Homo sapiens: one gene and its partners. The protein of the gene in region 1 purifies or fractionates together with the protein of each later gene. This does not show direct contact. Each region holds a gene or a part of one and is shown in the gene's direction. Other genes may lie near its edges. The genes, in order: SLC7A1, GOLM1, STX12 and GHITM.

Region 1 (7,563 bases):
ACTTTAGTGGCCTCCCTTTCTGTTTTGCCATAATCTGCCTCCTCCCCCACTCCCATACCCATCTACAAAGCAGCCTTGAAAATAACCACCCCTGTGGTTCAGTGTGGGTCATGATCTGTCAATCCAGGCTTAGTACATTTCCAAATGGAATTACCAGAAGGATGGGCATCAAACTGGGAAAATGATTTGGTGGCTTGCTAGCCGTGTTCCTTTTTCTCCCAAGGCATTCGTTCAGATGTGCAGTGTTGGCAGACCCAGGGGATGCCATTTACCTGGCCCACTGGTCGAGATTTGGTCATCCCAGGAACTTGGGCTTCAGAAAAGATGTTTCTGGGCTTTGGACCAGATTCTGGCTGGTCTGTGGTTTGCCCCTCCTGCCACACCCAGTGGCTTTCATTGGGCTTTTTTCCTCTAGTTATTGTCAGGAACAGTGGGGAATGGCAGGTATTGCATTTGGTGAACACACTGGATAACTGGAATCAGAGCCGTGTGACTGAGGGAAGAGGCCTTCACAGCTTCAATGCAGAATGGGATGATTATCTGCCCTGAAACGAAGGATGCTTCTTTGAGGGGAGTTGGGACCAATACTGGGAACAGCACCGCTCCTGGCTTCTCTGGCTTTGCTTCTCTCTGAAGTAATTTAGACTTCGTGAACCTTACATACTGGCTCCATCTGTATATTGGGAGAGCCTGTCCCTCTCAGCCTCACAGTAGTGAAGTTAGGAAGCATGGAGTCCACAGTGTTCTTTGAAAGAATCAAGGCACCAAGTCCATGCATTTACATTTCTCTCTTGAGATCAGTCCTTTTGTTAGCAGCCTGCAATTCTGACCACGGCAACCAAAAATTTCTGACCGTGGCAACCAAAAATCAAGCGCGAGGAAACCTGGGGGTTTATTTGGAGGTGGGAGAGGATGTCCCTTCTTCTGGTAGGACTATGTCTGGCTACATTGTCTTTCCATTTTTTTCTGATTGTCCCCTTGCCCCCCTCCCTTTTCTGGGGGCACAGAGGGCATGGCAATTTTGTTTCCTAGCTTTCCATATTCCTACTGCAGTGCTTTCTTCAGAATACTTGTTCAGATCGGATTCTTGGCTGTGAGGGCAACCAGCTGCTTTCCTGTTTCTTTAAAAGTGGATCCCACACTGCCGTGTCCTGCACAGTGAGTTCTGCATTGTAGAAACCATCTAGCAGTGGTGACTCAGGGAGTGGCCTCTGCTCGGTATGGGGCCTCTGCAACATGAGGTTATGGGGCTTCTACGCTGTGGGGTCAAAGGAGACATCATGATCCCTACTGGCAGAAAGAGCAGAGCCCCAGAGTGGGTTCCACTTACGGGGTCAGTGTCTTTTCTGAGATATTCCTCAGAACCACATTTAAATTCTTTTTCATATTGTTTGCATAATAATTGCCTTCTAGTGCCTACTTTATAGGACTGAGAGGATTTAAATGAGATAATCCATGTTATGGATTTAACACAGCCTCTGGCACAAGTCTAAATGTTGCATGTAAGTGTTAACTATTATACTGGAAAGAAGGCTCAGTTCCTTGATTTAGGTGTGGGAGAAAAATATATATATATTTTGAGATAGGGTCACACTCTGTCACCCAGGCTGGAGTGCAGTGGTGCAGTCACAGCTTGTATTAGCCTCCACCTCCTGGGATCAAGCGATCCTCCCACCTCAGCCTCTGAGGTACCTGGAACCATAGGTGTGTACCACCACACCCGGCTAATTTTTATTTTTTATTTTTTGGTAGAGAAGGGATCTCATTATGTTGCCCAGGCTGGTCTCAAACTCCTGGCCTCAAGTGATCCACCTGCCTCGCCTCCCTAAAGTGCTAGGTTTATGGTCGTGAGCCACTTAGCCTAGCCCTGAGAAAAATAATTTTTACAACAACTTAATTTCGCTCTCTCATTTTACCAAGGCATTAAAATGTTGTGCTCTTTCCTTGGGTGGGTTTCTAAATTAGAAGGGGCAGACATAGTCCCAGGGTGCTGGAGGAGGGATGCGGGCCTCTGAGGCATCTGCTGACAGGTTCACCATCCCATCTGGTCCCAGGTCTGAGGGAAGGAACAATAGTCTCTGGGCTGTTTTGGCTCTGACTGCCTGGATGGACTTGAAGCCATCTCTCTTTGGAATCCTGATGTCTCCCTGAGCATGGGGTGCAGGTTTGCTTAGGACTCAGACCCATGCACCTTGCGCTCAGTGACTTCTAGGACTCCTGGGAAACAGAGCTCTCAGCCCCTTTCTTAGTGTTTGCTGTGTGTGGGTATGTGTATGTTTATGTGTATGTGTATGTGTATGTGTATATGTATGTGTGTGTGTTTGGTGGGGGGCAGGACGGGAGTGACTGCCCTGGCTACAGTCATCCCAAACATGTTGTTCAAATTACTCCGAAGCCCTTGGGTTTTAGAAAAAGCAAAGCTGAAAAGCTGAAACTCTGGGCCGTGTTTCCCACCTCACTCATCCCGTGCTTGGGTCTGTAGGATAGGATGTCTCCATACAGCACAGGGGTGGTGGGCGACACCCACCTGGGGGCAGCAGTGAGAAGGCAGGGGCTCATCCTCCCCACAAAGTGGCTGGAGTTGATCTGTTATGGACGTGTTCGAAGTGTCCTTCTCTGCATCTTGTCTGCTTACTGAGTGCCATTAGCCAAAGTCTGTTAGGCCAAGTAGGAAGGAAGGGAGGGGCCCTGGGGCTAGGTAAGATCAATCATTGCAAGCACTTATTTAGTGCTCACCATGTACTCTGCGCTTTATCTATGTTTCATTTGAATCTTCCTAACCACCCAGTGGGATCGGCCCTTCTGGTGTGACTGATGGGGAGAGGGGAAGGCAGGTGGCCCACGGGCACACAGGTAGGCAGTCAGTGGCAGAGTGAAGATTGGAACCCAGATGTCTGCCTGTACCTGGACTCCAGCCTGTCTCGGGATAGGCCTGGCCTGGCCTGCCCTGTGTACACTGAGTGGGAGGCAGACAGATCTGAAGCCCATCTGCCTGCGTCCCTCTGTTTCTGGCTGAGTCCAGGTGGTGCTGGCACCGGTCACCCGCCCCAACGCTGGAGGGCACCCTGCCTCCCCTCTCTTTGCCCTGATTTCCCTCTGCTGTCTCTGAAAGTGGGTCTTCCCCCTCCCAAGTCCAGGCACCTGGCACAGCTGGAGCCCTGGGGTCCTTGGGGCAGCTGCGCTGGGACGTGGCCAGTGTCAGGAGCCGGTGTGTGTGACGGAGGCTGGGCTGCATTCTTTCTGGGTCAGTAGTTTGGCATTTACATCACCAGCCTTTGGCTGGATGCAATGCCTCCTGCCCAGACCACAATGGAGCCTTGTTTGATTTATCACCATCCAGCCACGCCCACACTCCACCTCCATCTCCACCTGGGGAGACCCCTTTGCAGGGGGTCTTGTGGAAATCAGAGACTGTTCGTAGGGGAAAGTCAGCTTCCTTTTCTGTGTTCCATCCTTCTTAAGGCCAGTGGCCGCTGTCATCCTGCCCTTGGCTTGGCTTTGCTGATTTCTACAATATCTTGCGGAGGTGCCCCCTTTCCTTAGAGGATGCATCTTTAACACTCTCAGAGAGGCTGGGGCAGGAGCTGTCCACACCAGGGCCTGCAGCAAGGGCCCGTCTTCCCCAAAGTGACTTGGGAGAGTCTTCCTGGCCCGCAGCTTTTCCACAGTGTCAGGGACACCTCCTGCCCTCCCTTGGGATGAGGCCTGGTCTAGGAGCTGGGGGCGTTAGGGTGCAGTTTCTGGGACCCAGTGAAGGCCCCTGGGAAAGACTGGCAGTTAGAGTTAGGAGAACTCTTCCCTCATCCCTTTTGCCCTTCTCCTTTTCCCCTTTTCTTTTTCAGCAGTTTTTGGATAACATTTCAAACTTAAAGAAAAGTTGCAGAGGCCAGGCATGGTGGCTCACGCCTGTAATCCCAGCACTTTGGGAGGCTGAGGCAAACAGATCACTTGAGGCCAGGAGTTTGAGACCAGCCCTGGCCAACATGGTGAAACTCATGTCTACGAAAAATACAAAAGTTAGCCTGGTGTTGGTGGCGCATGCCTATAGTTGCAGCTACTCGGGAGGCTGAGACACAGGAATCACTTGAACCCGGGAGGCGGAGGTTGCAGGGAGCCGAGATCACACCACTGCACTCCAGCCTGGGTAACAGAGTGAGATACTGTCTCAAAAAAAAAAAAAGAAAGAAAAGAAAAGAAAATTTGCAGGAGTGCAAGGAACTCCTGGGTACCGTCTCTCAGATGCACAGGTGGGTTATGTTTTGCCTCCTTCTATTCTCTCTCCACCCCACACAAACTCACATGCACACAGACACATACATTTTTTTCTGAACCATTTGAGAGTCAGCTGAAGACGTCATGCCATTTTATTTGCCCTCTATACTTCAGTGTATATTTCCTAAGAACAAGGCTCTTCTCTCACATAACCATGGTACAATAGCAAAGTCAGGAAATTTAACATTAATACAACCCTGCGATCTAGGCCACAGTCCATATTTGACTTGCAGTCGTCCACATAATGTCCTTTATAGCTAAGTATTTTTGGGGAAGGAGTTTTGCAGTGTGGGGGTTCTTTCAAAAGAGGTGTGATTTTCTACCTCATAAGCCTTTTTAAGAAAAAGTGTTTCTAAAAGTTAGAATGTTTGTTGTGGAAAATTTGGAAACTACAGAAAATTAAAAGAAGGAGAAAATAAAACCCATTCATAATTCCAGCTCAGAGGCTGAGTGATCGACCAGAAAGGTGGTGGAAAGACTTTCTCAGCTCCTTCAGCTCTGGTGACCTGGCCACACAGACTCGTGATCCCTCCACCACCCACACACTAGTCAGGAGCCCCGCAGCCAAGTCCTGGGGCTGTGGGAGGAGCCGGCCCCTGTCTGGAGCTGACGGTCTTTCATGCTCCTGCCCACCCCTTGGGCAGGTGCCCACCGAGCAGGCAGACTTAACCAGCCTTGGTGGTGCCTTTGTGGTGCATATCCTCCAGGTGGGGAAGGGTGGAGATCGTTAATAAATATCCAGAACTTGTTTGAGACTTGAAAAGAAATGTTGCAGGCCCACTCTTGTCTGGTCTATACCCCTTGCTTCCTGGACTTGGCAGAGGTTAAGGATGGGGCCTGGAGCGTGATTGAGGGAAACAGCACTGGCCCCATATCAGTGAGCTCTTGGGTGCTTCATGTGGTTGTTAGACTTGCCTTTTAATGAGCCTCTTGGCCCCTACCAGTGGGCTACGGAAGAAATAAAATGTGAAATTTTACCATGTGAAGTTTGCTGTTTGCCAATGACTGTGCTTCTCAAAAGTTCCTAGGGAAAGGTTTTAAAACTGGTGCAGGTAGTGAAGTTTGGATCTCGCTTCCCTGCTTTGTCCGCTTAGGTGGTCCATTCGCCATAACAGCTGGAACTGAGAGTGGCTCTCCCCTTTCCTGGCCCAGAACGGGTCTTTGCTAAGCGAGTCTGGTTTCTGGAAGGATTTTGTTCTTAGAAGCTACTACGTCATTGTCCTCAGCTCCCCATCATTTGTACCTCAGTTTCCCTGAGCTGTAAGTCTATGTTATGTGTGAAAATGGGCCTCTGAAGGTCATGATCAAAAGCCTTGAGTATTTTTCCATGTGTTTGTTTTTTCTACTCCGGCCCCAGACCCTCTCCTTGAAGGAGCTGGCCTTGAGAGTGACTTCGGTGGGCAGCCGCCCAGACTCCACACACCCTGCTGAGTCCACGTAACGCCCAACCTGGACGGGCCAGAGCTGAAGGGCTACTCTTCAAAGAAACCCTTTGAAGTGCAAACATTTCCTTTCCTGAAAAGAAGGGAAATTGAAATGAAAACGTATTGTTCTGTGCAGACAATGTTCTCTTCGATCAAAGAGGGAGTGGGGCTTATAAAGGGAGATGCACAAATTAGAGCTTGATGTGGCCAGTGGTGTGGATGTGAATATTCATCCCTGTGGAGGAAAATAGTGGGGTCTCTGAGATTTGTAAGATTGTATTTTCCTTTTTTTTCTTCTTTTTCCTTAAGGCTCTGAATCTAGGTCTAACGTTCTATTTAATGATGTCTCTCCTTTGTGTTTTTATCTTGTGGTAAGCATTTGGGAGTGTCTTTCAGTAAATCATGATACCATTTCCATGTTAGAATACTATGTAGCCAGTAAGAATGGCGTTTTCAAAGAACATTTGATTTTGTGGGAGAAACTTTAATGTTAAAAGTGAAACCATCTGGGTGCAATTTCCCATGTTCCGTGTTAGCTTAATGAGATATATGTATTTGCACAGAAAGAAAAGACTGGAAAAATTGGACTTTGTTTTTCTCACTGCAGTGTTTGTGGCACCTAAAATAGTGCTCAAGAAATATTTATTGAATGACTATTCTTATAATTAGTAAAACTGTATTTAAAGGAGGAATGTCTTTGAGCTAATGTTTTGGCAGGTGGATGGGACAATATATTATTTTAAGTTTCTGTTGTAATTTTGCCCTAGCAGCTCAGTTCTGGTAGATTTTGTTCTTTGGCACACATACATACCCCATTTTGCACTTTGGTACAAATTATACTGTGAATGGGTGACTTTGACATTTATATTTTTGGAAGAATCCAGTTCTACTGAAATCAGAGTATCAGATGTTGTCTTTTTCCTAATGTTCCCAGATGGGGTAGAATTACAGCTTCTTCTTACTTACTCTGTAACTAAGGAACCTTTGGGCCAGTTTGTCCTGTCCTGTGGTTGAGAATTTTTGCCTGGTTTGCCCAGGGTTTCTCATCCTTGAGCATCCAAGGCTACCAAGATACACTGTTCATATGTCGTCCTGGTTTCTAATGGATAGTTATCTAAAAATGCAGCTTCCCATTCTTACCTGCACTGTAGGTTAGCTTGGAAGATGTCCATCCCTGGTCTCAGTGGTCTTGTTCAGGGAGGGTGACTGTCACAGCTGTCCTTTCCTCTCTGGTGAGATTGTTTCATTCCTCCTTCAGGCACTTGGGATTCAGAGCCCTGTTGGCTGCCTCTTCTGTACTGTCAGCTTAGCACAGGATTCTGGAAGCCCGGTGCTGGGAAAGCCTTTCTCTGGGCTGTTTGGGATGGGACTACTGGTTACCCGCACACACTGGTACTCACTGGGTGTTCCCGAGGATGGCGGCTTTTAAACTTCTTTGACCGCAGTCTACAATAAGAACTAAATTTACATTGTAATCAAGTACACACACAGAGGCACACATATTGATATATAGATAAAATGAAAATTTTTATGAAACAGTACTCATTTTTACTATCTGTGATACGCTGAGATAATTTTTATTCTTTTCTATTTCATTACAAGAAAAATTCCTCGTGGCAACTTGGAGTTTGCAAAACACACTAGGTTTAGACATATGAGCCACACCTCACCTGCAACTCCACCACATTGTCCTGAATTTCATGTTCACTGCTGGCACTAGGGGATGGGAGTCAATTCTCCATCCAGACCAGTTAGGGCAAAGAAAGTTGAAGAGTCAAGGTTTCTTTTTGTGGTGATTTAGGAGTTTCTGACTGAAGGGGACATTATTCTCTGTGATGATGCCCAAGAAAGTGAGTAGGTTTTCAGG
Region 2 (7,436 bases), on another chromosome or scaffold:
GAAAGGAAATAATGGATACTGAAAGCAAACACAGCAAGATATTTACAGCAAATACTTTTTAGTCTGTTCAATTCAATTTATTTCATGCAGTTTACCCTTGAACAATCTACGGGTTAGGGACACCCCCATCTCTGCACAGTTGGAAATCTGCATTTAACTTTGATTCCCCCAAAACTTAACTACTGATAGCCTACTGTTGACTGGTAGCCTTACTGATAACATAAACAGTTAACACATATTTTGCATGTTATATGTATTATAAACTGTATTCTTACAATAAGGTAAGCTAGAGAAAAGAAGGCAGCATTTAAGAGCAATGAACTAGGATATCTAGCAGAAGAAATGTCTAAGCAGTAAAGCATTCAAGGTGTTGCATGGATTGTTTTGGCTGCTTACAGTAAAATTAGAGAAGAAATAAATGATTAAAAGATGAAATTTATAACTAAAAAGGAAGCAGAAAAAAATTTTGAAAATTTTCAGCCTGGCCAAGAGTGCAAAGGCATGTTTGGGAGAGCCTCATAAAGATGTAAGTCCTTGTAGGGATATAGTCCAGTGGACCCCTTGCTAAAGAGATTACCATGGCTAGAAAGGAGTCAGGTGCTATTCATCAAGACAAGAAAGACCCCAATGGCATTTCAGAGATTTTTTAGGTTGCCCCTTCCATCACAGGCCCAGAGCAGGACCTTGAAGGCAAGGTTTCCAGAGACGTGGCCACAGGACCTCAGCATTTGCTACCAGGCACTGCCTCAAGTATCTGCTCCCCGCTTTCCAGCACAGCACTCCACAGCTGTTGCAGCTGTGTGGCTCAAGTGGGCCCAGCTGTGGCTTAGGCTACTGTTCTAGAGGGTGTAAGTGGTGGGCCTTGGCGGCATCCATGTGGTGCTAATTCTGAAGGTACACAGAGTTCATGAGCTATGGGGCTATGGCAGCCTCCACCTAGATTCCAAAGAATGTACTGGACAGCCTGGGGATACAGGCAGAAACTTGCCGTAGGGGCAGAACTGCCACAGAGATTCCCTACCAGGGAAATGCCTAGTGGAGCCATGGAAGCAAAGCCATAGCAGGGAACCACCACTAGGACAATGACCAATGGAACTGTGGGGTTGGGGCTGTCCCAGAGCCCCCAGAACTGTAGAGCTACCAGTGTGCAACACAGCTTGGAAGAGCTTTAGACATGAGACTACAAACCATGAGGTTCTGTGACATGACTACACCCAGCCAAGTTATACAGATGGGGCAGCCCAAGACCTTGGGGGTCCAACTCCCACCCTAGTATGCTTAGAAGGTGAGATATAGTCAAGAAAGGCTATTCTGAGGCTTTGGGATTTAATGTTATTTTTTCCCTGTTGGGTTTTGGACTTACTTGGGACCAGTTACCCCTTTATCTTACATATTTCTCCCTTTGGGAATGTGAATACCTATACTGTGCCTGTGCCACCATTGTATTTTGGAAGTAAATAATTTGTTTTAATTTCACAGGCTCATTGCTGGAGGAATTTGTCTTAGGATGAATTGTGCCTTGAATCTTGCTCATATCTGATTTAGATGAGACTCTGGACTTTCTAGTTGGTGCTAGAGTGAAGACCTTAGGGCTGCCAGGTGCAGTGGCTCATGACTGTAGTCCCACCACTCTCGAAGGCTGAGGCAGGTGGATTGCTTGAGCCCAGGAGTTTGAGACCAGCCTGGGCCACATGTCAAAACCTCATCTCTACAAAAAATACCAAAAAAATTAGCTGAGCATGATGGCATACACCTGTAGTCCCAGTTACTCAGGAGGCTGAGGTGGGAGAATCACCTGAGCCCAGGAGGTTGAGGCTGTAGTGAGCCATGATCACACCACTGCACTTCTGCCGGGGGGACAGAGTGAAACCCTGTCTCAAAATAAATAAATAAATAAATAAATATTAAAGCCTTTAGGGCTGTTGGGATGGAATAAATGTATTTTGTATGTGAGAAGGATATGAACTGGGGGTGGTGGGGGGCATAGAAGCAGAATGCTATGGTTTGAATGTGTGCTCCATAAAGCACGTGTTGAAAACTGAATCTCCAGTGCAACAGTGTTGGGAGGTGGGGCCCAAAGGGAGGTGTTTAGGTCATAAAGGCTCCACTCTTATAAATAAATTAATGCCAATTATAGAGGGTTTGAGGCTGCAAGTTCAATTTCACATACACCCTCTTGCCCTTCTGCCTTCCACCACAGGCTGATGCAGCAAGAAGGCCCTTGCAAGATGCCAGCACCTTGATATTAGACTTCCTAGCCTTCAGAACTATGAGAAATACATTTCTTTTCTTTATAAATTACTGAGTCTGTGGAATTGTGTTATAGCAACACAAAATGGACTAAGACATTAAGGAAAGGATGCTTAACAGGCAAAACATGGATGCTTCCTTCAACCAACCACTGTAGCCCCTTGCACATTGTTTAATCAAAACCCATCCAATTGAATTTTCAGGGCCAGCAACTGATTAGCTTTTTTATAAGGAATGTAAATTATGTATATAGATATATATAAAACTGCATCTTAAAATTTTCAACTTTTGTCATAAAGAATCTAACGAAAAGGACTAATTCATCTTCAATTAAAATATAGCTCATTCAGCCAGCTGCCTTAGCACCTAGACATATGGACCTGTTCCATAAAGTGTTTAAGAATCACTGAGTGAGTCGCTAATTAGTTGCTGATAAATGAGAGACTAATGGAGACCCTCCTTAGAGCCAAATGATATAGAAGTTACAGTCCACCAGTCTAAGAATGTAAACTATACTAAGAGAGCTAAAATGGGCAAGAAAGGGAATTTCCTGTACCTGTCCCCGATTATGGTTATTTAAGCTCACTAGAAGATCAAAGTGACACAACTTAAGTCTGCAAAACCAGGGCTGACATCTGATACAGCCTCAGCTTCTGAATGCTTTGGTCTGACCCTACAACAGTTTAACAGTTGCAGATAACAAAAATATCATTTTGGAATATAGTAGAACATTCCTCTAAAGGGGTCATGTATGGTCAGCTTCTAATTCAGCTAAGAGGTTTTAGCTGGTAAAGATACGTTTCCTGCAGTTAAGAAGCTCCATGCTCAGGTAGCAATAGGGTATCTTGATCACCTTTTTTAAGGTGACTCTTTGTTCTGGTTAAAATCAATTTCAGCTGTGAGCATTCCTTTAGGTGTTCATGTATTTACTTGTTTTTTTATTGTGATTTGAGAGAGGCGCAGAGGAAGGAGTTTCCTTTCCCAGACACCAGAGCTAGGAAGACATGAAGACATGATTCTAGGAAAACTGTTCTCAATCTTGGCCGTATACTGTATTAGGATTATCTGGGAAGCTCAAAACAAACAAAAAATATCAAGTTCACTTTGAACTCTGGAAGTGGGACCCTGGTTCCTAAATGCTCTAAAAGCTCCCCAAATAATTCTAATGGATGGCAGGTGCTGCCAGAGTTAAGAACCATTGCTTTAGAATTTTCTAGCATGGTTTCCCTGTAGGTCACTAGTTTTGTGGCATTCTCTCCGGGAGGTACGGCCTCATAGGGCTTCTCAAACATCAGTGCGCCTGAGCGTCATCTGAGGCGCTGTTTCAAATGCAGCTGCCCGGGCTATAAGATCACACCCGAAGGCGTCCGGGAATCTTCACTTTTTCCGTTGCTAGCAGTGGAAGGGTCACAGACCAAACACTAAGGCCTGAGCGGTGACAACCGAGGCGAGATGATGGTCAACAGGGAATGCCTCGTGGGAGAAAAAAGACAATTTTGTGAGTATAAGCCCCCTAAAAACCTGTTTTTCGTTCGCTTCCTTCTCTGGGCAGTTTTGACCCGACGACTTTTATAAAGAAGGTAACGTGAGTGTGGCGCTGGGTGCGGTTGGCTGTTCGGGAACATTCCCTCGGGGCGGAACGTGGGATGGGGGCTCCCCCCAGGTACCCTTTCCCCACAGCCGCTTCCCCGCTCCGCGTCGCTGCTCAGGCGCCAGCTCCCGCGTCGGAAGGGGCGATGGGGTGGCCCGGGGGAAGGGGCAACGCCCAGCGGCGAGAACTGGGCGCACGCTGGCGTTCCTGCTCCCGCCGAGGGGCGGCCACCGGCCGGGGCGCGCGCACCGTGGGGCCGGGAGTCCGCGCGGCCCCGGCAGCCCCTGCCTCGCTTCTCCGCGCTCGCGGCGCCGCCTCCTCCCTTCGCGCCGCCGGCGCTGCTCGGGGGCGGGGCCTTGCCGCTGCGGAGGCCGGAGACGCGGCGGCGCTGGACGCGGAGGCGCTGGGCGCACGGCGCGGAGCCGGCCGGAGCTCGAGGCCGGCGGCGGCGGGAGAGCGACCCGGGCGGCCTCGTAGCGGGGCCCCGGATCCCCGAGTGGCGGCCGGAGCCTCGAAAAGAGGTGAGTGGGCGGCGCGCGGCCCCAGGCTGCCCGAACCGCGGTCCATCGCTTCCTCCCTCCTTTGCCCAGGGCCCGTACCCCGCGCGCCGAGACCTCGCGTCGGTCCCCGGAGCCTCCCCGCGGCTTGCGCCGGGGCTGCAACCTTCGCTGGCTGCGCTCGGGGCTGGCTCCGCACCTTCCTGCACCGAGTAGCCCGCGGCTGCCTGGGCCCCTCGGCTCGCTCCCCAAGACCGGGCGCGCGGCCCCCTTGCCCTGCGATGAGGGGCCTCGCGAGGATTCCCTGCCCTGCAGTCTCAGGCGATGCGGGGCCTGTCTTTTTGTTCTGAGCTTTGTCACGCGCGTCGGCATCCAAAGTCAAAAGCGTGCACCCCCTAAGTCGCACTAGTTCCAGTTCTGCAGCGTGATTTGCACCAGGCGCGGGAGGCTGGCCGAGCCGCGAGTCTCTCGGCTCCCGCCGCCTCTTCCTCCCCTCCAGCCCCAGGCGCGCTCCGGCCGCCCTGGGGTCCACGTTGCCGCTGGGCCTCGTGGCTGGTGACCCCGGAGCTTGGGCTCCGGGTCCTCCCGCCGCGCGTCCAGAGCGCGGCTGCATCCCGTTCTCGTGGATGCTCGGGGTTTTCTCGCATACCTGTGTTTCCACCTTTGCCAACGTGGAGGATCCACACAACTTTGCCCTGCTGTAAAAATCATATCCCATTTAATATTTTTAATGATTTGCTTTTAAGAAACAAAATGTGAAGAATAACAATTTTGATGAAATTTTTTAGCAAAATTTAAGAATTATTATATTTGAAATACCATGATGATGCTGGACAATTTCAGATGTCCCATAGCCAGATTTGCAAAACTAAACTTGTGTGACTTTCACGATTTTGAGGTTTTCTTTGTCTGATTTGGGGTCCCTAGGCCCTACATTATGCACATTATTGAGGAACATTTCTAGGGCTGGATTAGTGAGATACACAATAACCTGATGAAGTATTTAGCAGCGCTTGAGTGGCTTTGTTTAGCTCATGGCCATCAGGTTGGCTCAAATCTCAGTTTTAGTATTTCTGAATTTTGGAGGGCATGGGACAATCTCTTGTCAGTTTTTGTGGGTCTCCAAAGGCATCCTAGCTTCTTCCAGTTGTGTTATAAAAGATGAAGCTAAGCTCATTACTTTCTTTCTTAATAGAAACTAGTAACTTGCTAAGACTTACTGTTTTTAGGCCAGACACTCAATTCTTAAGGTGTCAGTGAACAAAAATTGAATTGTTAGGATGGTTAAAGAAAAGAGGTTAGCTTTTAAGATACATTTTGTTCTCCTATGGAGAGGTTATCCAATTTTCACATTTTTTTTTAAAGTTGGTTTTACAGGAAAACGAAAGAAATGAGAGGAAAGTAGTGCTGAGGGTGGGGCCAGGAAATTGTGGTGACTTGGATATTAAGGGCCAGGGATACCATCTGCTTTCTAATGGCTGGTTTAGGTCCAGTTATTGATGGGAAATGAAAAGATTTTGCATTTACATTCCACCCGCTGTTGTTGTTGTTGTTGAGGGCTGGGCAGAAACAACAGTTAGGACAGCTGACCATAGCAGGCCCAGGGCTACCCGGGTTTATATATATATGGCCACCTTCCCCAGGAAGGAGGGAACTGCTACCCTTATCCTGTGAAAGTGCGAGCTGGCTTTCTGCATTGGAAGTACAGAGGGCAGAACCTGGGGAAAATGCGTCTGCGTGGATCAGTAGGAAGGGTGGAGCATCACTTTAGGCAGGTGTGCTGAGAAGAAGACAGGTGTCAGTTGATGGGCACTATTGGTGGGAGGGAGCTTGAAGGCAGCGTGGTCCCTGAGGTCCAGCCGCCTTTCTCAAAGGACCTGGGGTGGCCATTGGGGGCGGGGGAGCGGTGTTCTGTGCCTTTGGCTTAAATTCTGCAGCATTATTGTTATTACTTGTTTTTTCTTGAAATAAAAAAAAAATAAGTTGCCCTATGAAAAAAGATACATTTCTTTTTCAGTGACGTAATGTGAGAAATAACATTTGTAATTGGGATTTTTTAAAAGCACTTCTGTTTTTGTAAAACAAAACAATTTTTTAAACATTTGTAAAAAAGTAGAAGGAACAGAAGGAATGGTGCTACTATGCTTTTGCTCTCACCTTAGAAAAGGGCGAATGATATTTCACTTGCTCCCCAAAAACTGTTCTTAAAGATCATGGTGGTTTTCTGGACTTCTCACGTTATTGATGAAGTTACATTAAAAGAGAGACTTGTCTCCAAATTTATGAAGTGTTTCTTAAATTTCCAGAGAGTCTTTCCTTTCTTTCACACAGATATTTCTCACACTTTCAGGAAAAAAAAAAAAAAAAGTCCATGCCTTCTCAGATTTTTACATTTTGGTCTTATTTTCCTTTAAAACCCTTAAGCACTTTATTAGTAGGACTTCCCTTGCTAAGATTTTGAAGATTAGTGCCTGACAGAAAAAAGTACATATATAAATACTATATAATATGATTATAGTTGTTTATATTGTAATTTGCTATCGTTTCCCAACTTTTTTGATGTTTCTTAGTAATAAAAAAACTTTTTTAACACTCTTCTGTATGTGCATTTGTTGCTTATTTATAAACTACATGTATTTGCTGTTATGGTTATATTGTGTCTCAAGGCCCAATATACACATAGGGCTGGATTTGTTAACAACATTAGAGGTAGAAACCCTGTTTTAAATACTCTTTCTCTTAATTTTAAGTATTTTGGGCCTGTGTCTTGTCAGATCTGATTACATCAGCATAGTTTCTACTTCATGAGGTATCTCATGCAAGGCTGACTCAGTATAGAGCTTTGCCAGCCACGGTATTTTGCTGTCCTGTGTTTGCATTTATTAGTGGAATAAACAGACCTCTGACTTGGTAGGTCTGGGGTCGGCCACAAAATTTGCATTTCTGACAAATTCCAAGGTAATGCTGATGCTGCTAATATGGGGACCACACTTTAAGGACCATTGAACTACAGCAGGAGTTGGCAACCTGTTTCTGAAAAGGACCAGATACTATTTTAGATGTTGCAGACCCTGTGGTCCCTGTCACAACTACTCAGC
Region 3 (7,563 bases), on another chromosome or scaffold:
TCACCACAACTTCCACCTCCCAGGTTCAAGCAATTCTCCTGCCTCAGCCTCCCGAGTAGCTGGGATTATAGGCATGTGCCACCATGCCCAGCTAATTTTGTATTTTTAGTAGAGATGGGGTTTCTCCATGTTGGTCAGGCTGGTCTTGAACTCCCGACCTCAGGTGATCTGCCAGCCTTGGCCTCCCAAAGTGCTGGGATTACAGGCATGAGCCACCGCACCTGGCCATAAAGAGTTTTTATTCACTTTTTTTTTTTGAGACACAGTTTCACTGTGTCACCCAGGCTGGAGTGCAGTGGCGTGATCTGCACTCCAACCAGATCAGTGGCATGATCTGCACTCCAGTGAGCAAAGGCTCACTGCAACCTTTGTCTCCCAGGTTCGAGCAATTCTCCTGCCTCAGACTCCCAAGTAGCAGGGACTACAGACGCACACCACCACGCTAATTTTTGTATTATTAGCAGAGACAGGGTTTTGCCACGTTGGCCAGGTTGGTCTTGAATTCCTGACCTCAAGTGATCCGCCTGCCTCGGCCTTCCAAAGTTCTGGGATTGCAGGTGTGAGCTACCATGCCTGGCCTATTCACTTTTTTTCTGTTTCCTTTGATCCTCTTGCCTATCCCGTCTGCCCTGAAACTTTCTTCTTGCCATGATTCTCTTTCATTGTGTCCCCCAACTCTGGAGATCCCCAGGTTGAGTCAGCCTCCTTCCCGGACTTCATATCCTCCTAAGAGTGGGCATGCCCCAAGGTTGTGCCATTGATCCTCGAATTATTTCACTGTATGCTTTCTCCTTAGGAGTCACCTGCTTTTATGACCTCCCTTTCACCTTTATGATCATGACCTCAGATCTTTTTCCAATCTAACCCCTTCACCTCTAAGTGCGTGGCCCATATCTTCAATTCATGTTCTGACATCTCCTCCTGAAATAAACTACCTTCATATAAAACTTGTCTTATACTGAGTTTCTCATGTTTCTCCCAAACCCCTTAACTAAGTTCATTGACAATACTTAACATCACAGAAAAGTTTGTGCCTTTTGACCTAATATTCTCACTCATGCTAATTAGCCCTAAGGGGAAAAAAAATTCTGAAGGTAAACACACACACACACACACACACACACACACACAGAGTCTATATACTCTGGAGCCAAATTTCCTGGATTTAAATCCATCTTTGTCACTTACTGTGTGATCCTGGGCAAATTACATAGCCTCTGTGGTGCTTTGGTTTTCTGATGTGTAAAGTTGGGACTATAATAATGCCTAATTTATAGGTCATTGTATAGATAAATGAATTATTATGTAAAGCACTTACAGTAGTACTGGTACAATTTAAGCACTATATAAATATTAGCCATTACATTGGGGCTTACTTTATAATATTTAATAACTGTGAAAAATCTAGAAGGATTATTTACATAAAATTTAGGTCAACTTGATGGAATATATGTAAGCGATTAAAGATCATGGCCGGGCACAGTGGTTCACACCTGTAATCCCAGAACTTTGGGAGGCTGAGGCGGGTGGATTGCTTGAGTACAGGAGTTTGAGACCCAGCCCGGGCAACATCTCTACAAAAATTAGCCAGGCACGGTGGCTCATGCCTATAATCCCAGCACTTTGGGAGGCCGAGGTGGGCGGATCACCTGAGGTCAGGAGTTTGAGACCAGCCTGACCAACATGGCAAAACCCCATCTCTACTAAAAATACAAAAATTAGCCAGGCGTGATGGTGGCCACCTATAATCCCAACTACTCGGGAGACTGAGGCAGGAGAATTGCTTGAACCCAGGAGGCGGAGGTTGCAGTGAGCTGAGATTGTGCCATTGCACTCCAGCCGGGGTGACAGAGCGAGACTCCCTCTCAAAAAAAAAAAAAAAAAAAATCGCGCCACTGCACTGCAGCCTGGGTGACAGAGCGAGACTCCATCTCAAAAAAAGAAAAAAAAAAAAACTCGTGCCACTGCACTCCAGACTGGACGACAGAGCGAGACTCCGTCTCAAAAAAAAAAAAAAAAAAAAAAAATTAGCCAGGCATCGTGGTACACATCTGTAGTCCCAGCTACTCAGGTGGCTGAGGTGAGAGGATCATTTGAGTCTGGGAGGTTGGGGCTGCAGTGAGCTGAGATCACACCACTGCACCCCAGCTTGGGTGACAGAGCAAGACCCTGTCTCAAAAAAAAAAAAAACAAAAACATAATTGTGAAGAGTATGGTAACATGGAAAATGTTTATGATGTATTTAAAAGTTATGATAATATTTTTGCACGGTAAGGTTAGGGAATGATGTCCTCCCCGTTATTGTTATAATTTTGTTTATGCAAAAATAAAAATCTCAGAAGAAAAGGGTTGCTCATCTAAATTTGCTTTTAGTATTACCATCACTCTTCCAGGTTTGAAATTTCAGTCATTCTTGACTTTATCTCTCTTTCCCCACCACCAGTCAAAATGTTTCTTAAATTCATTTCTTTATGATTTTATTACTGATACTGTGTCCTCCTAACCTTAAACCTAGACTATTGAATTAGTGTTCTGTTTGACTTGTTTCTTTTTTCCATTCCACCTTTGTGTAAACGGTGACCCAGGTCTCATCACAGACTAATTTTTCTAAGTTACTATTTTGTACCCATGATGTTTCTTGCTCAAAAATCTTCATTGCTCTTTGTTCTTTAGAGGTTGAACCCCAAACTCATTAGCTTGTTTTTTTTTTTGTTTTTTTTTTTGAGACAGAACCTGGCTCTTTTGCTCAGTCTGGAGTGCAGTGGCGCGATCTCAGCTCACTGCAACCTCCACCTTCCAGGTTTAAGCAGTTCTCCTGCCTCAGCCTCCCAAGTGGCAAAGGACTACAGGCGCACGCCACCACGCCTGGCTAATTTTTTGTATTTTTAGTAGAGACATGGTTTCACCATGTTAGCCAGATGGTCTCCATCTCCTGGCCTCGTGATCTGCCTGCCTCATCCTCCCAATAGCTTGGCGTTTTGTTTTGTTTTTTGAGACGGAGTTTCACATGTGTTGCCCAGGCTGGAGTGCAATGGCACGATCTCAGCTCACTGCAACCTCCACCTCCTGGTTCAAGCAATTCTCCTGCCTCAGCCTCTCAAGTAGCTGGGATTACAGGTGCCTGCCACCATGTCTAGGTAATTTTTTCTATTTTTAGTAGTGATGGGGTTTCACCATGTTGGCCAGGACGGTCTTGAATAATTCCTGCCCTCAAGTGATCCACCCACCTTGCCTTCCAAAGTGCTGGGATTACAGGCATGCGCTACTGCGCCCGGCCTAGCTTGGCATTTAAAACCTGCTGTGGTTGGCCCCTTTCTTAACTTTCCAATTTTGTATTTTAGCTACTCTCATTACTAAACGTGTAGTTCCAACCAAACAGTCTGTCTAGAGATCCTCTTCAAGTTCTGCCACCATGCCTTTGCTCACACTATTCTCTTGCTTGGATTTGCCTTACCCCTTCTTTCTGCTTATTCATGCCTTCCTCTTACTTCACTGTCCACCTTCTCTTGAGGCCTTTCTTGGCCGCTTGAGTTCTTACTGATTATTCCTGCCCTCTGAACTCCTGTAGTACCAATTGGATATAGCAGTTATTTATAATAACTTTGTTACTTGTCTGTCTATATCCTTTATTTACAAATAGACAGCTGTTTGAGGTCAGGGGTGAGTTTTTACTTCTGTGTTCATAGAACAGGACAATGCTGTCAGTATGTGGTGTGTGTGTGTGTGTGTGTGTGTGTGTGTGTGTGTGTGTGTGTTTTGTTTTGTTTTTTCAGACAGAGTTTCACTCTATTGCTGAGGCTGGAGTACATGGCATGATTTCAACTCACTGCAGCCTCAACCTTCCAGGGTCAAATGATCCTCCTGCCCCAGCCTCTGAGTAGCTGATGTGTACCACCACGCCCGGCTAATTTTTTTATTTTTTGTAGAGATAGGATTTTGTCATGTTGCTCAGGCTGGTCTTGAACTCCTAGGCTCAAGTGATCCTCCTGCCTCAGCCTCCCAAAATACTAGGACTATAGGCATAAGCCACTGTGCTCAACCTCAGCATATGTTTTTTGAGACATAGAAGTAACAAGCTTAGTAGAGGTAGTCTGTAGATAAATGAAGTACTTACCAAGTCTCAAAGATTTTAAACCACTAAAAGCCTGTGAAATGCTTCTATAGTTTACAGGGAAGCTGTGAATTCAATATAGATGAATAGGGTTTTAACATTTTAGCTAAAACCCATCTCTGTTTGGATTCAACTGGAGTCCAGAGGTATTTATTCTCTTTTATATTCTCCAGGGCACCAAAATTCTGAATTGCAGTTCTTTGGAGATTACTTTAGAAGTTAAATACAGGCTGGGCACAGTGACTCACGCCTGTAATCCCAGCACTTTGGGAGGCCGAGGCGGGCAGATCACCTGAGGTGAGGAGTTCTACAATAGCCCGGCCAACATGGCGAAACCCCATCTGTACTAAAAATACAATAAAAAATTAGCCAGGTATGGTGGTGGGTGCCTGTAATCCCAGCTCCTCAGGAGGCTGAGGCACAAGAATCGCTTGAACACGGGCGGCAGAGGTTGGCAGTGAGCTGAGATCATGCCACTGCGCTCCAGCCTGGGCGACAGAGCAAGACTCCGTCTCAATAAAAAGAAAAAAAAAAAAAGAAGAAGAAGTTAAATGCAACCCAGTTCCAGGTTTGTCAGAATGAAAGAAGAAAAATTCTGACTTGGTCTATAGTATTAACCAGGGACTTGAGCTAGCAAAGAGCAAATTTATTAATTTAAAGAAGAGACTATTTCATAATAATTTTCCTAGTTGGAAATCTTTAAGGGGTATAATTTTACTTTTAAGGGAAATTAAAACCAAATGATTCTGGGTTAATATGAAATCTCAAGTTCTTGCTTGATTTCCTTAGCGCCAGCAGAGACTTCAGAAGGAACGCCTCATGAATGACTTCTCTGCAGCCTTAAACAATTTCCAGGCTGTGCAGAGAAGGGTATCTGAAAAGGAAAAGGAGAGTATTGCCAGAGCAAGAGCTGGATCTCGTCTTTCTGTAAGTTGATTCCCAAAAGAAGACCTTTGCAATATCAGAATGTTCTTTTCCAAGTTTGTGGGTTTTTTTCTTTTTCTCTTTGACCAATAAACATGTAAGTTAGCTGCTGTGAAAATGGCAGGTTGGTGTAACCTATGTAAAAAACATATATGCATGTGATCAAAGCCTAGAAAGGAATCTGAATGAAGGTTAAGAGATATAGGAGGAAGAACTATGTCTAATTTTCTTTTTCATTTTGATATATTGGTTTTAACGTTAAAAACTTGAAAATAAAAATAATGAATCTGTTTCCTGGAATATAACAGGCTAGTTTATTTGGACTAGCCCTCTGTTTTTGAAAAGGATTTTCAAATACTGGATTTTAAAAATCCAACTTCTCAAAAGTATCAAAGATTATGAAAATATTAAGGTAAAGCCTGAGAGGTCAGCAGAATACTGAAACTGCTTTTGCATTGAATGTCTTTACTGAAGGCAAACTTGAACTTCAGTTTTGATATCCTCATGGCATGGGGAGGATAAAAGTCAAAGCCAAAGGTCCATGCAAGAGAGAGAATATAAAAGAAGGTACAACTCAAATTAAACTGGGCCCTAAGAGACTATATCCTTAGAACATTAAGTCAAAAGTAAGCTCTTCTATCCCCCGGCAGATTACAGAAAGATTGCATTAGCACTGAACTGAGCAGATGGAGGAGGAGGGCAGGAGGGAGGAGAAATCTAGACAAGGTTACCACAAAGTAACCTTCTTCAGGCAGATTTTCTGCTCAAATTCATCCTACCTGAATGGTTCAGTGGTCCTGGACTGGGAGAGCCACCTATGTGTGGGATAGAAGCAAACACAAATTCCTTCTGTAGAAAGACACCTTTATCCTAGCCCTGAAATAATACTCTCAAATAATTTTTCTAGGGCAGTAAGTACCAGTCACTAAAAATAACCATGTGTGCAAAGAAACAAATTACTCTGAACAAGAATTAGTAGAAACAACAATGAAGTGAAATATACCTACAAAGACTTTTTATATTAGAATTATAAGACAACTATACTTATTGTGTTTAAAGACATAAAAGGCTGAAAACCTCTGCAGGAAACTACACAAAGATTTGAAAAAGTGTCAAAAGAATTTCTAAAATGGAAAGATATAATATAGAAATTTAAAAACTTAGTGGATGGGTGGTTTAACTAAAAAATTGGTTAGAATATATTATCCAGCATGTAGCATAGGGGGTTAAGAGGTTAAATACGGAAGAAAGATTATGAAAAATGGAGAATGGAGAGAAAAGATCTAACGTAGTTTTAACTGGAGTTATAGAGTGAGAATAGGGCAAACATAGAACAGAGGTGATATTTGAAGAAATAATGAGTGATAATATTCTAGAACTGATTAAAAACACTAGCCTGCAGTTTCAAGAAGCCTAACAAATCCCAAGCAGGATAAATAAAATCTCTAATCTAGATACATCAAAGACAAACTTCAGACCAGAGACAAAGAGAAAAATCATAAAGATAGCTAGAGAAACATTAGAATACCTTCAAAGATACAATAGTTAGATTGACAGTTGACTTCTCAACAACAGTGGAAGCCAGTAGAGTGCTATCTTGAATGTTGATGAAGGACAATAACTGCCTACCTAGGATTCTAAACCCAGTGAAAATATATGTCAGAATGAGGGCTAATTAAAGACATTTTCAATCAAAAGAGAGTTTTCTGTCAGCACATCTTATTGAAGGAAATTCTAAATAATGTATTTCAGATGGAAGGAAAGTGATCTCAGATGGAAAGTCTGAAAAGCAGAAAGAAATGAAGAACAAAAAAAGTGGTAAAGATGTGAAAAGACTAGTCACAGGGAGAAGACATTGCTATATATATTTAATAGCAAAGGACTAGCATTTAGAATATATAAAGAATTCGGCCAGGCGTGGTGGCTCACACCTGTAATCCCAGCACTTTGGGAGGCCAAGGTGGGCAGATCACGAGGTCAGGAGTTCAAGACCAGCCTGGCCAACATGGTGAAACCCTGTCTCTACTAAAAATACAAAATTAGCTGGGCGTGGTAGCGCGTGCCTGTAATCCCAGCTACTCTGGAGGCTGAGGCAGGAGAATCGCTTGAACCAGGGAGACAGAGGTTGCAGTGAGCTGAGATTGTGCCCCTGTGCTCCAGCCTGGGCGACACAACAAGATTGTATCTCAAAAAACAAAAAACAAAACAAAAAAAACCCCAGAATTCCCATGAATCAATATGAAAAAGAAAGATACAACTCAATAGAACAAAAGTTGTCAAACTTTTTAATCTCAGGAACCCATTACACTCTTAAAAATCATTAAATTCTGTGGCCGGGCGCAGTGGCTCATGCCTGTAATCCCAGCACTTTGGGAGGCCGAGGCGGGTGGATCACCTGAGGTCAGGAGTTCAAGACCAGCCTGGCCAACATGGAGAAACCCTGTCTCTATTAAAAAATACAAAATTAGCCGCGCATGGTGGCGCATGCCTGTAATCCCAGCTACTTGGGAGGCTGAGGCAGGAGAATC
Region 4 (7,563 bases), on another chromosome or scaffold:
TAGTCTTCCCTCTTCTTGGCTTCATGTTAAGGAAAGATGCTGTTCTTGAGTCCATATCCCAGATGACAAAATATAGCTAATAATGCTTGTAGAATGCATATCTTAAAAATGCTAACAGATTCTCACCCTGGTATTTGGTTAGGATTTAAAATATAACAATTCTAGGTATGTAAATCTATAGTTTGTGAAAGAAACAATTTTTCTGAAATTGAAACTAAGAATAATATAATGAATTACTAACTTCCAAAGGTGGAGCACAGGGAAGGTCTACATTTATTTATTTATTTTTACATTTAGTTTTTTAAGTTGGCTAATAAATTTCCATAGTGAAGTTAGGTATATAGAAAGTACCAAGTTTCTTTAACTAGAGTTTTCTAGTGTAAAGGGATCTTGCATTTTATTTTATTAACGTTCTGTTTTCATGTGGGTGGTACGTGTCTTTGTTTGCATGTGTGTCAGGAATATGCCACCAAAACAAGAATTGGGATCCGGCGTGGGAGAACTGGCCAAGAACTCAAAGAGGCAGCATTGGAACCATCGATGGAAAAAATATTTAAAAGTAGGTGGCTATCTTTAGTTTTTAACCTAGAATCTATGGATATGTTTTAAGAGGTCCATGAACAACTTCCTAAAAATATATGTGTATTTGTGCATTTTCTGGGAAGACCACATTATTATTCTGAGATCTGACGACCCAGAAAAGATTGGTACTTTGCACTGGATTCAGTGGTTATCAATCATATTTCTTCCAGTGGAAATTTTACTTTCCTTTTTTTTAAAGAAAAGGATTATTAATATGCCATGGTCCAAAAGGTATACTCTGTTGAGAAAGTTCATTTTAAGTGTGTAGAATCCTCATTCAAGCATATAATATTTGTGTATGTTTCAGATTAAGAATAAATCACCAACACATAGATGTTAATAAAAGCCTAGCTGTCCAAGAAGAATCCTTTAACTCACTGCTCACATAGGGCCTCAGGAGGGCAGTACTTTAATATATTGCCAGTTTGGTTCAGTTTGGATATCAACTTTGCAAGTTCAGAAACTAGATTGTTAATCATCCTAAAGCTATTCAAAGAATACCACTGCTCCTTAATAATCTTGCAAAATGTCTTTACAGTGGGAGAGAGCCCTAATCAGTATCCTTCAGGTCATTTCTTTCTGATTTGACCCTAGAGACCAAATCATGCAAATTATGTAGTGACAGCCTAGTAATATTCTTAGTAAACGAATTAGACTAAAAGAATAAGATGCCCTTTATGAATACCTCTATTGAGTTAGAGTTGATTAGTTGCCTCTCAGTACCCTAAAACGGGAGCCTCCTCTCACTTGATTCTGCTGCATAAACACTGATTATATTTTCTCTTTTTTCTTGATTTCCACGTAAAGCATCATTTGTGTTAATACCATGCAGTATGGTATGACTGTTAACATTTCCTTCTCATTTTTTACTTTCCATGAATGTCATGTGAATATACTTCAACCTCTTATTAGTAAAATAATAGGTATCACAGAAGTAGCTCCACGTCTACAGGTATACTGCTCCCTCAAATATTGTTGGAGGGAGGTTGAAGATTCACCAAGCCTGATCCTTTCTTTTTTGTACTGATTTTTACACCTTTGTTTCAGGAGTGTTTTTTTCTACTGGTTACCTAACATTGAGGCAATTTCTGTACCCCATATGCACTGATTATGGCTTCTATTAAATATGGTACATGATTTGATTCCCTTGATAAATATTTTAAAGGCTTTGTCCAGATGTGCCAGTACTAACCTGCATTTCCTTCTGTGTTCTGCAGTTGATCAGATGGGAAGATGGTTTGTTGCTGGAGGGGCTGCTGTTGGTCTTGGAGCATTGTGCTACTATGGCTTGGGACTGTCTAATGAGATTGGAGCTATTGAAAAGGCTGTGTAAGTAAATTGTTTTAAGTAAACTGTTCCTAAACAACTCCAGCCTTAAAACAAAAATTCAAATTTTCTTCTCATTCCTATCTTTAGTCACTTTGGAATGTTTTGTGTCTAGTCTTTGTGTATACACACAAATAGAGAATCTCTTTTTGCTTCTTTGACATTTATTTATTCAAATCTAAATAAAAATCTTTTAGCAAGGTTATATGTGTTTAAGCAAAGAGAAAATATGAAATATGTTTTTTGTTTGTTTGTTTGTTTGTTTTTTTGGAGAGAGAGTCTTGCTCTATCTCCCAGGCTGGGGTGCAGTGGCGCGATCTTGGCTCACTGCAACCTCCGCCTCCTGGGTTCAGGCAATTCTCCTGCCTCAGGCTCCTGTAGGTGGGATTACAGGCACATGCCACCATGCCCGGCTATTTTTTGTATTTTTAGTAGAGACGGGGTTTCACCATTTTGGCCAGGCTGGTCTCGATCTCCTGACCTCAGGTGATCCACCCACCTCAGCCTCCCAAAGTGCTGGGATTACAGGCATGAGCCACCGCACCCAGCCAAAAATATGTTGTTTTTTATATGTGCTTGTATGTTTTATCTCATTTAGTCCTTACAGTAACTCCCAAGTATGCATAATTATCATAATTATTTCCATGATAAATGAAGTGAATAAGATTTAAAGTGTAAAATGATTTATCCCGAGGTCGCCCAGCTAGTGTGTGACTCAACCAGAAATCAAATCTGTAATTTCATAGATTAATCATGTCATGTTTCTTACAGAATTTGGCCTCAGTATGTCAAGGATAGAATTCATTCCACCTATATGTACTTAGCAGGGAGTATTGGTTTAACAGCTTTGTCTGCCATAGCAATCAGCAGAACGCCTGTTCTCATGAACTTCATGATGAGAGGCTCTTGGGTGGTAAGTCAGCTGTTTTTGTTTTCCTTTTTCATCTAAAGATCAAAAGATTAGATAAAATATATTGGAGGGAAGGGTTATTAAATGGAAAGAATACTGTATTGAACAAGTTTTTGTTCAAATAATGTATGAATTACAGGTTGAGCATCCCTAATTTAAAATCCAGAAATGCTCCAAAATCCAAAACATTTGTAGTGTCAACATGATGCTCAAAGAAAATTGTAGCATTTCACATGTTGGGTTTTTGAATTAGGGATCCTGAACCCTAACAACAATGAAGTGTAATGATAAATAGTCCGAAATCTGAAGTCTGAAACACTTCTGGTCCCAGACATTTCTGATGAGAGTTACTCAACCTGTATTAGTGCAGCTGAGATAAAAGTAGGAAGTTCATTCTAGGTAGGTCAGCTATTATTCTTTATTAAACATGTATTCGAATAATACCAGAGGAGTTAGAAATCAAACTTACAGAGACAACATTTTTGTCTAGCAGCAGATATCAGACAGCCTCTAATTTGTAGCAGTTTACTAAAAAAATAAAGCAAATGCAAAATCATCTTAGAAGTCAGAGGGAAATGCCTATGCAGTTAAGAGCAGAATAGTGCTGCTACTATTATTCCTAAGATTCTTGACCTTATAGAAGATTTTATATTTAATCGGTTTCTCTGGAGCCCTTGTTATTTTGCTAGATAAGAGAATTTGAATATGTGTCCCCTATTCTCCTGCTATTTGGTAGAAGAGATGAACTGGAATAAGTGGCACAGATACGCAATAAGAAAGTGCAAAGTCAGTTGAGAGTTTCTGTCTTGGACTGTTAGGCAAGTTCCGTGAAGGAGACATTTATTTCATCAGGGTTGTTGAAGGCTAACATGTCTCATTTATTTTAGAAGTAGACAAGAGGGCCAGGTGCAGTGGCTCACACCTGTAATCTCAGCGTTTTAGGAGGCTGAGGCAGGAAGATTGCTTGAGCCCAGGAATTTGAGACCAACCTGAGCAACATAGTGAGACACTGTCTGTAATTTTTAAAGAAATAGAAAATTTTAAAAATTAAAAAAAAATTTTTTTAAGTAGACAAGGGCGGTCCAATTTTACCAAACAGTTTAAGGGAAGAGGAGGTAGGAAAACCTAATTTCAGAGGTGACTTACAATCCCATTAGAGGGAAATTCAAGTGTTTGAGGTCTGGAGGGTAAAGAAGACGTGGTTAGAAAGGATACAGTTGTCAAGCTGAGGAGAGAACCTAAGCAGTCGGAGGCCATTGGAGATACTGGAACAACAAAAGCGTGATTTATATTTGAGTTTTTAGAACCAATGTGGAAGAGACATGGAGCAGGTGTACCAGCTGTGCCTTTGTAAGATCTGAAATGAGGGATGATAAGAACCTGAACTAGAGCAGAGTGTGATACTGGAGGGGAAGGAGAGTTCATGTAACACTGATTCCCCACATAGGGACGAAAACCATATTATTTTCACTGTGTTGTACTTTACTAAAGGATAACCATTTACAGTAGCAGCCATTTGGATATTTATATATTCTTAGGATCATGCTTTTTCACATAGACGTCATGAATCTCCCAGCCCAGAGGTTCACAAAGGCACAGAATGTTTCACTGGGGATGTCAGTTTTAATCAGAAGCAAATAATTTAAAACAATACTTTTGTAATAAACATGACAATATTTACCTAAAATTTTAGGCCCTAAAATGAGGCTTCAAAGAAGTTTTGTGTTTGGGCCATATCCTCAGTCCCTTCTGGGCAAAAGATTACCCTCTTCCACTGTTAGTAATACAGAAAATAGGAAAGCCAAAGACAAGTGTTACAGAGATGAAGATGTAACCTTTTGGGTGTGACAGACATATATATACAAACACACACATAGACACACAGATAATGTCAAAGTTTGTCCCAAGTGCATCTGAGGAGAGGTATCTGATCTTGCTCTTGGGCAGCCAGGGTACCTACTAGAAAAAGCTTTTGAGATGAGACAGTACCAGAGTAAGTCGACCAGATATGGAAGGAGATATTCTTAGGCATGATGGATTGAATTAAGGAGGCCTGAAATTTTGGGGCATGTTGGCAGCTGTGCCAGTTCCGTATGGTTGGAATGCAGAGTTTGGAGTGAGACTGGATCATAGAAGATCTTAAAAAAATTTAATTGCTGCTGTCCACAGAGGATGTGTGAAATAGTTTGTAGTAATTATTTCTCGTTAGAAAATGGTGGAGTGGAGCTCGATATGCTTTTCTTTTCTTTTTAATGTTTTTTAAAAATAGAGACTAGATCTCTATGTTTGCCTAGGCTTGGCTTAAATTCCCAGGCTCAAGTGGTCCTTTCACCTCAGCCACCCAAGTAACTGACATTACAGGTCCATACCACTACACCCAGCTCAGTATGCTTTTTCATGTTAAGGTTTTCCCATTCTTGGCAAAACCAGCTATTTGGTTTACCTGTACTTTATATTAGAGGTTGAATATTTTGATGTTCATAGGTGAGACAGATAATACAGATGAGTGAGGAGGCCTAGTGTGTCACACAGGAGATTGTTGACATCTAGAGGTTACTGACATCTAGAGTTAACCTTTTCAACTAAAACCATTCACCATGTTCTTTTTTTTTGTTTGTTTTTTTAAACATAGTTTGCCAAACAAAACATCTGTGGCCTGATTCCAAGGGCTACAAGTTTGCAATCTCTGATTTAAATTTCTTGGAGATTAGCACCATCTTATTTCCATTACATGTTAATACATTCTTCTTGTCATACACAAGCAATATTTAATTATAACACTGGAAATCTAAGATAGGCAAAGAAAAGGAATGAGGACCAAATTAGCCATAAACCTGGAAGGGTAGAAGTGTAGAATCTTATTTCTCATTTTTCTTTTCCATGTGCTGTGATAATCTACTTTCTATTTTTCAAGTCTTCATTTAGCAAATATGGAGTTCAAAGTGATGTGCTATATATATTTTTTTTAAAAATTACTAATTTGTAAGCATCACTGATTTTAAAGAAAATGCTATTTGTGCTATACAAAAATATATTTTTTAATTAAGAGTTAATTATCTTGGGATCCCTAAAGGGTTTTTGTTTCACCTCTGTCCAACAAGAGTAAAATTGTTAAAAGATGTGTTGCCAGTTCAAGCTTAAGACATGCATTTGAAGCTGTCTGCAAAACCTCATATATGGCAGTAGGGGGCACTCGTGCTAACTTAGCCAAAACTCTGAAATAAACCCAGAGCTTTTAATGTGCCAGAAAAATTAAAGTTTTTATTTTTTATTTTTTATTTTTTATTTTTTTATTTTGAGATGGAGTCTCGCTCTGTCACCCAGGCTAGAGTGCAGTGGCACGATCTTGCCTCATTGCAACCTCCACCTCCCGGGTTCAAGTGATTTTCCCACCTCACTCAGCCTCCCAAGTAGCTGGGACTACAGGCGCGCACCACTGCGCCTGGCTAATTTTTGTATTTGTAGTAGAGACAGGGTTTCACCAGTTAGCCAGGCTGGTCTCAAACTTCTGACCTCAGGTGATCCACCTGCCCCAGCCTCCCAAAGTGCTGGGATTGCAGGCGTGAGCCACCACGCCTGGCCTTAAGCTTTGATTTATTATCTTTAATATTTTTACAACTAGTTTATTAGAAGTAACTAATTGTACTTCAAACCTGTGGGTTTCTGCTTTGTTTTCATATAAAGATCAGTTTTTCTTAATAGTACTTGTCTTTCAGACAATTGGTGTGACCTTTGCAGCCATGGTTGGAGCTGGAATGCTGGTACGATCAATACCATATGACCAGAGCCCAGGCCCAAAGCATCTTGCTTGGTTGCTACATTCTGGTATGTTCTGTTTTAAATTGTTACGAGACAACCTTGACTACCACCTTTTTTGGGTGGCTCTTCACAGTTGTAAATGACCTACATGGAATTTAAGCCTCATGTTTAGAAAACACCATTTTCTTCAGTCATTACTGGCTGCATTATTGCCAGACCTTTGCTTTGAAAAGTTGATTTTGCTAAGACCATGGACATCTTCAATACGAAACTTGTATCTTCTGACAGTCTAGTATATGCAGAGATTTACTTTTGTGTATTTTGTTCGATACCAGGAGGGTTTTATATCTAGTACGCATCATTTGAGAGTTGTTTTTGTCTGGTATGTTTAGAAAAATTAAAAACTGAGGATAGAGAAAGTTGTGCTAAAAATGTTGCTGCGAAATAACAAAAAACTGAGAGGAGTCCTAATAGAAGTGTTCTGTGTAGAAATTTCACCCACTGTTTTGCCTAGAGCAAAAAGTATTTTTAAATTATTCATCATCATGAGATAGTATACCTTATTAACCATATAACTTGATCTAGAAATGTTATTCTTTAAGCTAGTATTGAAAATTCAGTATAAAGATAGCTTTGTGCCTAGTCTATGAGGTAAACGACATTTAAGAAAAAGGTAACTTATTCTTCTTAGCACTGAAATAATGCATTATCTAAGTTTTTTTTCAATTAAGGAGTTCCATTTACCTTTGTTGAATTACTGGTAAATTTTTTACGAAATTGTTTATAAATATCTGACAACTAAAATTACTTATTTATAAGCTGTTAGCAGTCCTTATTACATAAAGAAACAGCAGTGTCTGTCTTAGAAGTTCCCACATTTTAAGTTTATCATCATATGCTTTCCCTTTTGACAGCAGTAGGTTTGACCTTGAGTTATTTGTTTTAAGCTTGTTTATCTCAATTATTATATGAATGTTGTAGAAACT

The links.
Region 2: the proteins of SLC7A1 (region 1) and GOLM1 purify together in Homo sapiens (affinity purification with mass spectrometry; 3 studies listed by BioGRID and IntAct, with this or other methods). This does not show direct contact.
Region 3: the proteins of SLC7A1 (region 1) and STX12 purify together in Homo sapiens (co-immunoprecipitation; 4 studies listed by BioGRID and IntAct, with this or other methods). This does not show direct contact.
Region 4: the proteins of SLC7A1 (region 1) and GHITM purify together in Homo sapiens (affinity purification with mass spectrometry; 3 studies listed by BioGRID and IntAct, with this or other methods). This does not show direct contact.

The regions. Positions count from the first base shown.
Region 1 is NC_000013.11:29,585,126-29,592,688, reverse strand, and holds part of SLC7A1 (high affinity cationic amino acid transporter 1), read left to right. Parts: intron 1-5,896; exon of another isoform or gene 5,897-5,964; intron 5,965-7,563. UniProt on the Homo sapiens protein: High-affinity, low capacity permease involved in the transport of the cationic amino acids (arginine, lysine and ornithine) in non-hepatic tissues.
Region 2 is NC_000009.12:86,096,337-86,103,772, reverse strand, and holds the start of GOLM1 (Golgi membrane protein 1), read left to right. Parts: upstream 1-4,214; 5' UTR 4,215-4,362; intron 4,363-7,436.
Region 3 is NC_000001.11:27,796,778-27,804,340, forward strand, and holds part of STX12 (syntaxin-12), read left to right. Parts: intron 1-4,900; coding exon 4,901-5,038; intron 5,039-7,563. UniProt on the Homo sapiens protein: SNARE promoting fusion of transport vesicles with target membranes. Together with SNARE STX6, promotes movement of vesicles from endosomes to the cell membrane, and may therefore function in the endocytic recycling pathway.
Region 4 is NC_000010.11:84,142,196-84,149,758, forward strand, and holds part of GHITM (growth hormone-inducible transmembrane protein), read left to right. Parts: intron 1-459; coding exon 460-559; intron 560-1,799; coding exon 1,800-1,911; intron 1,912-2,679; coding exon 2,680-2,821; intron 2,822-6,534; coding exon 6,535-6,643; intron 6,644-7,563. UniProt on the Homo sapiens protein: Plays an important role in maintenance of mitochondrial morphology and in mediating either calcium or potassium/proton antiport. Mediates proton-dependent calcium efflux from mitochondrion.